Regions from separate parts of the Homo sapiens genome. Here region 1 is linked to region 2. A link means that fine-mapping ties the variant in region 2 to the expression of a gene that starts in the linked region. Tissue or cell type: whole blood. Region 2 holds a variant in brackets; the other region holds the start of a gene. All regions are shown on one strand. Distances are from middle to middle.

Region 1 (5,154 bases), 95 kb after region 2:
AAAAGCGTACTTGAATTTCTTGTCATTTTATTTAAGAATTTGAGAAATAATCCAGTTCAAAGTGGAAAAAAAGTTTCTAATGCTCATAAAATTTGAATTGTTTTCAAATGTTGACACCTTCACAAGATTTAATTTATAGATACACACACACACACAGACACAGACACACACACACACACACACAGGAAAAATCATTTAAAAGCCCACAAGCAATCCCATGTAAAAACTCAAGTGATCTCTATCAATTATAACAACAACTGATGCTTTATTTAATAGCAGTAAACCTAAATAAAGGCTAAAAAGCTCACTAAGATCTCAAATGCAATGTCTTTCAGGAAATGTCTCAATATTCCAGGTCTCAGCATTAAGCTTTTATTCTTCCACATAGTTACATAACTCTGGCCCAGAATGATGTCAGAGAAAGTCATTTCTCTGATATGCTTAATTTACTTATCTATCAAAATTATACAACTGGCTCATAAGTAGTTGTGAAATTAAACTAGCAGGAAAGAATTTTGGAGACTAAATAATGAAAGATGTAACACACAATAAACTGAACAATTTAAATGTTCAGTAAGGGCAATGCCTAGGGGTTTAACCTGACATCAATAAAATATATAGTGTATACATTATGCACCTAGTAACCTCAGTGGAGAATTCAAAAGAAGTTCATTCATTCATTCAACAATTATTTATTGAGGGCCTACTACATGCCATGAACCTAGTCTCTGGGGATACAGCAATGGACAAAATGTATAAAAAGCTTGCCCTCAGACTCCTGCCATCCTACCTGAATCATTCTCATGTAAGAGAGGCTGGATCTCTGCCCTCAAGGACCTAATATGGGCACACAAAACAAATGAAATATATGAAATAAGAAGAAAGAACTACAGTGTGAGCGCTGCTCACATTGGAGGAGTTTGAAGGAGGGCTTGGAGCAACTAGGAAGGGTCAATGGAGGTGAGATTTGAGACAGGTCTTAAATGATGGAGCTTGATTCAGACCCTTGCGACTTAAAAGTGTGATCTAAACATCATCACCATGTGAGAGCTTGTTAGCATTGCAGAATCTTGGGCCCAGTCCAGACATGGGAGATAAAAATCTGCGCTTTTGAGGGAGCAAAAGAACCCTCGGATTTCTATGGACATTAAAAGTTTAGGTGGCACTGCAGGTTTCCGGTCAGGCTGGCAATGTTGTGAGCTGGGTTGGTGGGAAATCGAGACTAGATTGGAGCCTAACATTAGGTTAGAAATAGTGAAGGGCTGGACTTGGGGAACTAGGAGTAAGGAAAATGCAATTGTACCTTTTATCATCATTAAACACAAACAGAAACCATAGAGAAAGTAGTAAGTTTATCACCAGTCAGAGGGACCTGCGTCTGAATTCCCAGCTGTACCACTTCTTAATTGCGTGACATTTCGGTCAAATTATTTAACCTGGTTGAGCCTTTTTCTTCATCTGTAAAATGAGGGGAAATCAATAAGACTCCAGAAGGCCCTTGTACAGGTTCAGTAAGGTATTAATAACACATAGAAAGCACTTAGCAGTCCCTGGCACAATGAAAATAATATCCATTAATAATAACGATATTGATAAGAATTATATACTATTCTCTGAAAAAGATTTAAAAGGAAGAAGAGAAACTATCTTTTACCACTAGAGGCCCCCCACCGTGTGGTGCGTAGAGACCCATAACAAATTTCAAGGTAAGGAACTTCATCTTCATTTTAAACTGGCACTCGACTATTACTTTTTTAAAAAGTAATTAACCCCTTACGTGTTCCCAAAGGTGCCTTCATAATGAAATTCCTGTTACTATTATTACCAGTGTTACTGTCGCTACTGTTAGAGTACTCTCAAAAGAGCCTGTCTCCCTCTCCTGGAGTAGAACTTAAAATGGGGCGGAGGCAGGGAGTTACCAAAACCACTGCAGTGTATGCTGATTTCAATAACCTGTACTGCTAACGATCCAATCTCATTTCCCAAGCCTCTACTATCCTCATTAATTTTTCTGCCGATGTACCATCTGTTTTCCAATTTCCCTCTGCCTTACACGTGCAGAACTTGTGGTAGAGAGAAGCCCTAGTTTGGCCGTTCTGCAAGGGATAGCCCAGGAGGTAGGGGGAACCTTAAGTTGAAGTCACCTGAAGCATGTTTGGGGTCAGGGAACTCGGAAAGCAAGAGTGTGGCCACAGATCTGCCCAGAGGCGCGACCCCCAGCTGAGGAGACCAGATGGCGGGAAAAAGCGGGGGTCCACCGACTCCGCGGCTATCTGTAATCCTACCCTTGGCCAGGCCGGGGAGCCAAGAAAGACTTCCAACACTCCCCAAGTTTCAGCTCAAGTCGTCTCCGAGGCTGCGTGTGCCCCAGCCTCGCACGCCTCCCTGCAACGTGGCCGCATCTGGGGCGCCCTCATACCCTCAGGGTTTCCCAAACTCTTCCATTCTCTTCCCAGGCCCAGCCATGTCCCAGGTCTCCGGGTCCCCGGGTTCTCCTCTCCGCGTGCCGGGAGAGTCTCCAGCTTCTCAGACTCCAGCAACCCCAGCCAAACCTCTTCGCTGCCTGGAGCCTTGGCTCCCGCGACACCGCCCGGCTGCGGGGCGGGGGCAGGGCCAACGGCGGAACCGCCCCCAACCGCCTCCCAGGCCAGGCGAGCAGGCGGGTGGCTGGGGCGCCTCCACCTCCTCTTCCTAAAGCGGCGAGGCGCAGAGGAGCGGCATCACTCGAGCCCAGGTCCCAGCCACCACCACTCACAGCGCTCGGCGTTCAGGAAGAGGAGCAGCAGCGGAGGCGGCTGCTTCAGCGGCGGGCGGGCGCCAGAAAGGTAGACTGAGTCCCAGGGAGCTGCGCCGCTAACAGCCCACCTCCTAGCCCCGGGCTACGCGCCGCCAGCCCAGTAACCCCACTTTTGTGTGTCCTCCCAGGCCCCGATCGAAAAGCCTGGGAGGGCCGCCGAACTACCCCCGGAGGGAGGAGCCAGTCCGAACCCAAGGCGCCACCGCCGCAGAAGCGGAGCGAGGCAGCATTCGCCTCCATGGCCCACTCGCCGGTGGCTGTCCAAGTGCCTGGGATGCAGGTGAGGAAGCGCAGGCCGCCCCCGCCGCCCACGTGACTGCTTGGGAGCCCGGTGCGCCCTCGGTGCTGGGCACCGGCGACAAGGGACGGCCCCAGGGCTCCCCTGAGGGCAGGGCCGGTCACTATGGCCAGGTGACCTGGGAGTAGGGCTGGAGGTGTTTCCTGGTGTGTAGGCTAGGTAGTGCTCTTCGCTGGGAAGGCGAGGCGGGACTGGAGCGCGCAACTAGGTGGAGATTGAGGGCGGTTGGGGGTATAAAAATAGGCCAGAGCCACAGACACCTGCGCCTGCTGAGCTTGGCACGGTTGGGGATGGGGGGGCGGAACTTAACCTGGGAGAGATGGAAGTGCCTTGGAATTTGTGGGGTATAACGCGAGTAGTGAGTGCCCTACACCCCCCACCCCAAACACACACTCAAGTTGGGGCGGGGCAACACCAGGGGTGGCGGCGGCGGCGGCTTGAATTGGGCTCTTCCTGTGTGCGTAGGGCTAAGAGAGAGGTGACCTCTTTCTCCCTTTCGGTACTGCTGCTTAAGGGCAAAGTTGTAGCTTGCTCCCCGACCTAGCCCAGCCCATAGTGTGGCGTGAGAAATGCTGGTTCTGTTCAGAGTCACTGAGGTGATGACTTCTCAGCCCCCTCCGTGCCTTTCCCACAAGATGACTGTTACATGTGGTTAAAGGAAGCTTTTTGTCTTGGACAAGGGACTACTGCATGGGACCCAACTTGTTACTCGAAGTCTACCCAGCCCAACCCCCTCCCATTATATTTTCATTTTATTAAAGATAAGCTATGTCAGAAAACTTTTTATGCTGTTATGTTTTTAAATCGGTGCATTTTAGGCTATCTGCTAAGTGTTATCCAAATTTACTAACTTTTTAAAGCATTCATGTTCTATTTTTTTTTCCTTTGCTAGATGGCCTAAACAACCCATTTAGGGGCTAAAACCACTGAAGCCTCAGTCTTTCATGATCTAAAATGTGAAAACAAACTTTTTTGAAGTTCAAAAATAAAATGTTTATAGTAAATAGCTTATATTTCTAGTAGAAATCAAAGAGCTGTAGACTGGGGCCTCAATTTACTTATTGATACATGGAGTTTTTTTTTTTTTTTCAGTGTTCTCATTTTATGAATGTCCACAAAAGTGATTTTTAAATTCTTTCCCAAAATGGGATTTATTTGTGCACCTAGAACTCTTGGTGTGTCCTAAACACCAGACATTTCAGCTGCATTTAGGGCAAGTCTGGGTTGAGTCTCAGGAAGTTAGTGTATATTAAATAAAGAGAGAGAGAGAAAGGGAAATAGGAAATAGTAGGGCTTAAAAAAAAAGATTAATCCACTCAAGCCTTGCAAAATGCCTTAAACTTTCTTCCTCTCAGGCGGCCTCCCCTCTCCTTCCCTCCTTCTTTTCCCCACGCACCCTGCCCCACACCCCATTCATTCAGTTCTGCCTTTGATTGTATCAAGGGAATTCATAGTTCACAATACTAAGTACAGTTTTGCTGTTTGATCTGGGAAAAAGTGACATTTTCTCACCGTGCTCTTCTTTCCATTCTGTGGAGAGTAAAACGATGCACATGTGAAGTTTGTCTCTGAGGGTCTCCATGCTTCTCGCTCCATTGTGTGCGCGAGCCTGCGTGTGTGCGTCAGCAGAGTGAGTGCCTCCAGTTCATCAAGTTTGTGATTCTGGGGAACTCTGTGTGCTGAGGGGAAAATGGTTTCTGATTTTTATTTTATTTGTCTTGAACTTATTGAATTTATATGGTTTAGGAACTGCTTGCTGTTCAGTATTTCTGATTGCTCCCTGCTTTTAATTATCTGAGTTGCCTATCTCTTGAATTTTTAAATCTTAATTAATGTGGATTCGAATGTGAATCATATACTTTAAATTACAAATTCTGCCTTTCACTCTGTGCCCTCTGAGTTGTGATTACTTTGTCCCACCTAATTTGAGTAGGGCAAACATCTCAACGTTAGCAAAGAAGAGAGGAATCTTTTTTTTTTTTTTTTTTGGTCATTCTCTTCATCTTAATGAAATGGTAAATTCTTAACTTCTTATTTCCATTTTATTTCTAATGTAGTT
Region 2 (5,154 bases):
GAGGATCTATAAAACAAAAATACAAGTTAAAAAGCAAAACAAAACAAAACAAAACAAAAACCTCAAACTACACAGGCAACAAAGAGCATGATGAAAGCAACTATACCTCATATTTCAATAATAACATTGAATGTAAATGCTGTAAATGTCCCACTTAAAAGATTCAGAACAGCAGAATGGATAAGAACTCACCAAACAACTATCTGCTGCCTTCAGGAGACTCACCTAACACATAAGGACTCACATAAACTTAAAATAAAGGAGTGGAAAAAAGGCATTTCATGCAAATGCACACCAAAAGCGAGCAGGGGTAGCTATTCATATATCAGACAAAACAAAAAGCAACAGCGGTGAAAAGAGGGACAGTATATAATGGTAAAAGAGGGACAAAGAGGGACAATACATAATGGTAAAAGGCCTTGTTCAACAGGAAAATATCACAATCTTAAACATATATGCACCTAACAAATGGAGCTCCAAAATTTATAAAACAATTACTAACAGACCTAAGAAATGAGATAGACAGTAACACAATAATAGTAGGGGATTTCAATACTCCACTGACAGCACTAGACAAGTCATCAAGAAAGAAAGTCACCAAAGAAACAATGGGTTTAAACTATACCTTGGAACAAATGGACTTAACAGATATATACATAACATTTCATCCAACAACCGCAGAATACACATTCTACTCAAGAGCACATGGAACTTTCTCCAAGATAGACAATATGATAGGCCATAAAATGAGTCTCTATAAATTTAAGAAAATTGAAATTATATCAAGCACTCTCTCAGACCATGGTAGAATAAAACTGGAAATCAACTCCAAAAAGAACCTTCAAAACCATGCAAATACATGGAAATTAAATAACCTGCTCCTGAAAGAGCACTGGGTCAAAAACAAAATCAAGATGGAAATTAAACAATTCTCCGAACTGAATGACAATAGTGACACAGCCTATGATAACCTCTAGGATACAGCAAAGGCAGTGCTAAGAGGAAAGTTCATAGCCATAAACGCCCATATCAAAAAGTGTGAAAGAGCATAAACAGACAATCTAAGGTTACACCTCAAGGAACCAGACAAACAAGAACAAACAAAACCCAAACCCAGCAGAAGAAAGGAAATAACCAAGATCAGAGCAGAACTAAATGAAATTCAAAACCAAAAAAATACAAAAGATAAATGAAACAAAAAGCTGGTTCTTTGAAAAGATAAATAAAAAGGAAAGACCATTAGCAAGATTAAACAAGAAAAGAAGAGAGAAAATCCAAATAATGTCACTAAGAAACAAAACAGGAGATATTACAACTGACACCACTGAAATACAAAAGATCATTCAAGGCTACTATGAACACCTTTATGCACATAAAATAGGAAACCTAGAAGAGATGTATAAATTCCTGAAAAAATAAAATCCTCCTAGCTTAAATCAGGAAGAATTAGATATCCTGAACAGACCAATAACAAGGAGTGAGATTGAAATGGTAATTAAAAAATTACCAACAAAAAAAATCCAGGACCAGATGGATTCACAGCAGAATTTTACCAGACATTCAAAGAAGAATTGGTACCTATCCTTTTGACACTATTATACAAGACAGAGAAAGAAGGAACCCTCCCTAATTCATTCTATGAAGCCAGCATCACCCTAATACCAAAACCAGGAAAGGGCATAACCAAAACAGAAAACTATAGACTGATATCCTTGATGAACATAGATGCTAAAATCCTTAACAAAATACTAGCTAACAGAATTCAAAAACATATCAAAAAGATAATCCACCATGATCAAGTGGGTTTCATACCAGGGATGCAGGTATGGTTTAACATACGCAAGTCAATAAATGTGATACACCACATAAACAGAATAAAAAAGAAGAATCACATGATCATCTCAACAGATGCAGAGAAAACATTTGAAAAAATCCAGTATCCCTTTATGATTAAAACTCTCAGCATAATTGGCATAAAAAGGACATACCTCAATGTAATAAAAGCCATCTATAACAAACCCACAGCCAACATAATACTGAATGGGGAAAAGTTGAAAGCATTCCTTCTGAGAACTGGAACAAGACAAGGATGCCCGCTCTCACCACTCCTCTTCACCATAGTACTGGAAGTCCTAGCCAGAGCAATCAGACAAGAGAAAGAAATAAAGGGCATCCAAATCGGTAAAGAGGAAGTCAAACTGTCACTATTTGCTGATGATATGATCGTTTACCTTGAAAACCCTAAGGACTCCTCTAGAAAGCTCCTAGAACTGATAAAATAATTCAGCAAAGTTTATGGATACAAGATTAATCTACACAGATCAGTAGCTCTTCTATACACCAACAGCCACCAAGCAGAGAGTCGAATCAAGAACTCAACCCCTTTTACAATAGCTGCAAAACAATAAAATACTTAGGAATATACCTAACAAAGGAGTTGAAAGTCCTCTACAAGGAAAACTATGAAACACTGCTGAAAGAAATCATAGATGACACAAACAAATGGAAACACATCCCATGTTCATGTATGGGTAGAATCAATATTGTGAAAATGATCATCCTGACTAAAGCAGTCAACAAATTCAATGCAATCCCCATCAGAATACCACCACCATTCTTCACAGAATTAGAAAAAATGATTCTAAAATTCATATGGAACCAAAAAAGAAAAAGAAAAACACGCATAGCCAAAGCAACACTAAGCAAAAAGAACAAATCTGGATGCATCACACTACCTGATTTCAAACTATACTATAAGGCCATAGTCACCAAAACAGC[G/A]TGGTACTGGTATAAAAATAGGCACATAGACCGATGGAACAGAATAGAGAACCCAGAAATAAAGCTGAATACTTACAGCCAACTGATCTTTGACAAAGCAAACTAAAACATAAAGTAAGGAAAGGACACCCTTTTCAACAAAAAAAGAGAAAGTTTAGGTTATTAATTTGAGACTTTTCTTCTTTTGTAATATAGACATTTAAAGCTATACATTATTCTCCAACCACTTCATTAGATGCATTCCATAGGTTTTGAACTCTTATGTCGTTTTTTAAGTTTTAATTTCTGTGGGTACATATTACATGTATATTTATGGGGTATATGGAATATTTTGATACAGACATGCAGTGTGTAAAAATCACATAAGGGTAAATGGGGTATCCATCACCTCAAGCATTTATCCTTCGTATTACAAACAATCCAATTATATTCTTTTATTTATTCTTTTTTAAAAAAATTTTTGAGACAGATTCTCGTTCTCTTGCCAGGCTGGAGGGTAATGACATGATCTTGGCTCACTGCAACCTCCAACTCCTGGGTTCAAGCGATTCTCCTGCCTCAGCATCCTGAGTAGCTGGAATTACAGGCATGTGCCACCATGCCTGGCTAATTTTTGTATTTTTAGTAGAGACAGGGTTTCACCATGTTGACCAGGTTGGTCTCAAACTCCTGACCTCAAATGAACCACCCATCTCAGCCTCACAAAGTTCTGGGATTACAGGCATGAGCCAATGCACATGGCCTATTCTCTTTTAGTTACTTTATTTTTCTGTAAGTTATTGGGATACAGGTGGTATTTGGTTACATGAATAAGTTGTTTAGTGGTGATTTGTGAGATTTTGGTGCACCTATTACCCAAGCAGTATACACTGCACCATATTTGTAGTCTTTTATCCCTCGCCCCCTCCCACTCTTTCCCCCAAGTTGCCAAAGTCCATTGTATCATTCTTATGCCTTTGTGTCCTCATAGCTTAGCTCCCACATATCAGTAAGAACATACGATGTTTGGCTTTCCATTCCTGAGTTACATCGCTTAGAGTAAGTGCTGTTGGGGAGGTTGGCCAATGACTGCTCTAATTGCTTCCCGCTAAATTGGGGTGTAGTAGGGGTCGTGCAGTTGAGATTTCCTCGGAAGCCGTGCCTTCAATGTCATCAACATCAGAGCATGGGCTAGCAGGCCGGTCCAGGGGTCCGTGGTAGATCTTAGCCATGGACTGCATCTGGGGCTCTATTTTAAGAAGCATTTGTAGTTTTACAGCTTCGATTCTGCAAGAGACAAGCTTAACAAGGAGGTTAAAGATACAGGGATTGAAATGTATGGCCTGAAGTGCAGGGTCATATAGGTGTGGGTGGTGAAAATGGGGTTTCCTTTAGAAAAACTCCTATACGATGGGTCATCAATATTTCCAGGAAGCCGCATTCTCCATAGAAGCTCTTGGTAATGGGAGCTACTGGTAGTACAGTGGCATGGAGGGGGTTCAGTGAGAGTGAAAGGGGGTAAGAGAACAGTAAAGAAAAAAATATGACAAGGAGGGCCATGAGGATCTACGATTCTAGTTACTTTCCTCACGGTTGTCGCTTGAAGAGCAGGTGCAGATCCTCTAGAGGTTCACAGGAATAGCTAGCGTTGTCTCCTGGATTTTCGGGTTCCTTTGGCAGTATACAGAGTTTGACTCGAGTGTGATGTATTCAAGACTCCACTCCAGCCACTTTAACCGCAGTTGGGGTAGATAAAATGACTGGGTAGGGTCCTTCCCAGGATGTATCTAAGGATGGGGACTTAGAAGGAAGGGACTTGACTAATACCATGTCACCAGGGTGCAATAATTACTTTCCCTCTTCTCGGGAACAGGTTCCCTGTAATGTTTTAAGAACTTGTTGATATTTGGCCAAGGAGGTGATGTCTGCAACTAAGCTGGCCATCTCTCGGTCAAGCACAAGGTCCTTGGTTAGGAAGGGCCATCCATACAGCATTTTGTATGGGCTAAGTCCTGCTTTTTGGGGAGAGTTTTGGATTCTTAGTAAGGCTGTAGGCAACAGAGCAGGCCATGCAAGGTGGGTTTCTTGGGTTAGCTTTTTTAAATGTCGTTTGAGTGCTTCATTCATTTTCTTGACTTTTCCTGAGGATTGTGGCCTCCAGGCGCAGTGTAAGTGATATTGTATGCCTAATGCCTGGGATACTCCCTGGGTTACTGTAGCCTTGAAAACGGGGCCATTGTCACTCTGTAAGCCTCGGGGAAGTCCGAATCTGGGAATTATTTCATGAATTAGTGCCTTTATTACATCTTGGTCCTTTTCTGTCCTACAAGGGAAGGCCTCTGCCCAACCAGTGAAAATATCTACCCAGACTAGTAGATACTGAAATCCCTGAGATTT

What was found. PIP is the estimated chance that this variant, and not a neighbour inherited with it, causes the effect.
Region 1: STK26 starts here. The variant in region 2 is fine-mapped to the expression of STK26 in whole blood (TOPMed, PIP above 0.99).

Annotation. Positions count from the first base shown.
Region 1 is chrX:132,020,583-132,025,736 of GRCh38, forward strand. It overlaps STK26 (serine/threonine kinase 26), which reads left to right and starts at 2,720. Exons shown (of 12, transcript NM_016542.4): 1 at 2,720-2,825; 2 at 2,926-3,077. The coding sequence starts at 3,036. RefSeq lists enhancers at 2,268-2,814, 2,302-2,351, 2,802-2,961, 2,815-3,362, 3,332-3,401 and a silencer at 2,512-2,761.
Region 2 is chrX:131,925,431-131,930,584 of GRCh38, forward strand. No RefSeq gene overlaps it. Among named protein-coding and RNA genes, the nearest start is that of STK26, 95 kb to the right of the region's middle. The variant G/A (reference allele first, on the strand shown) is at 2,779.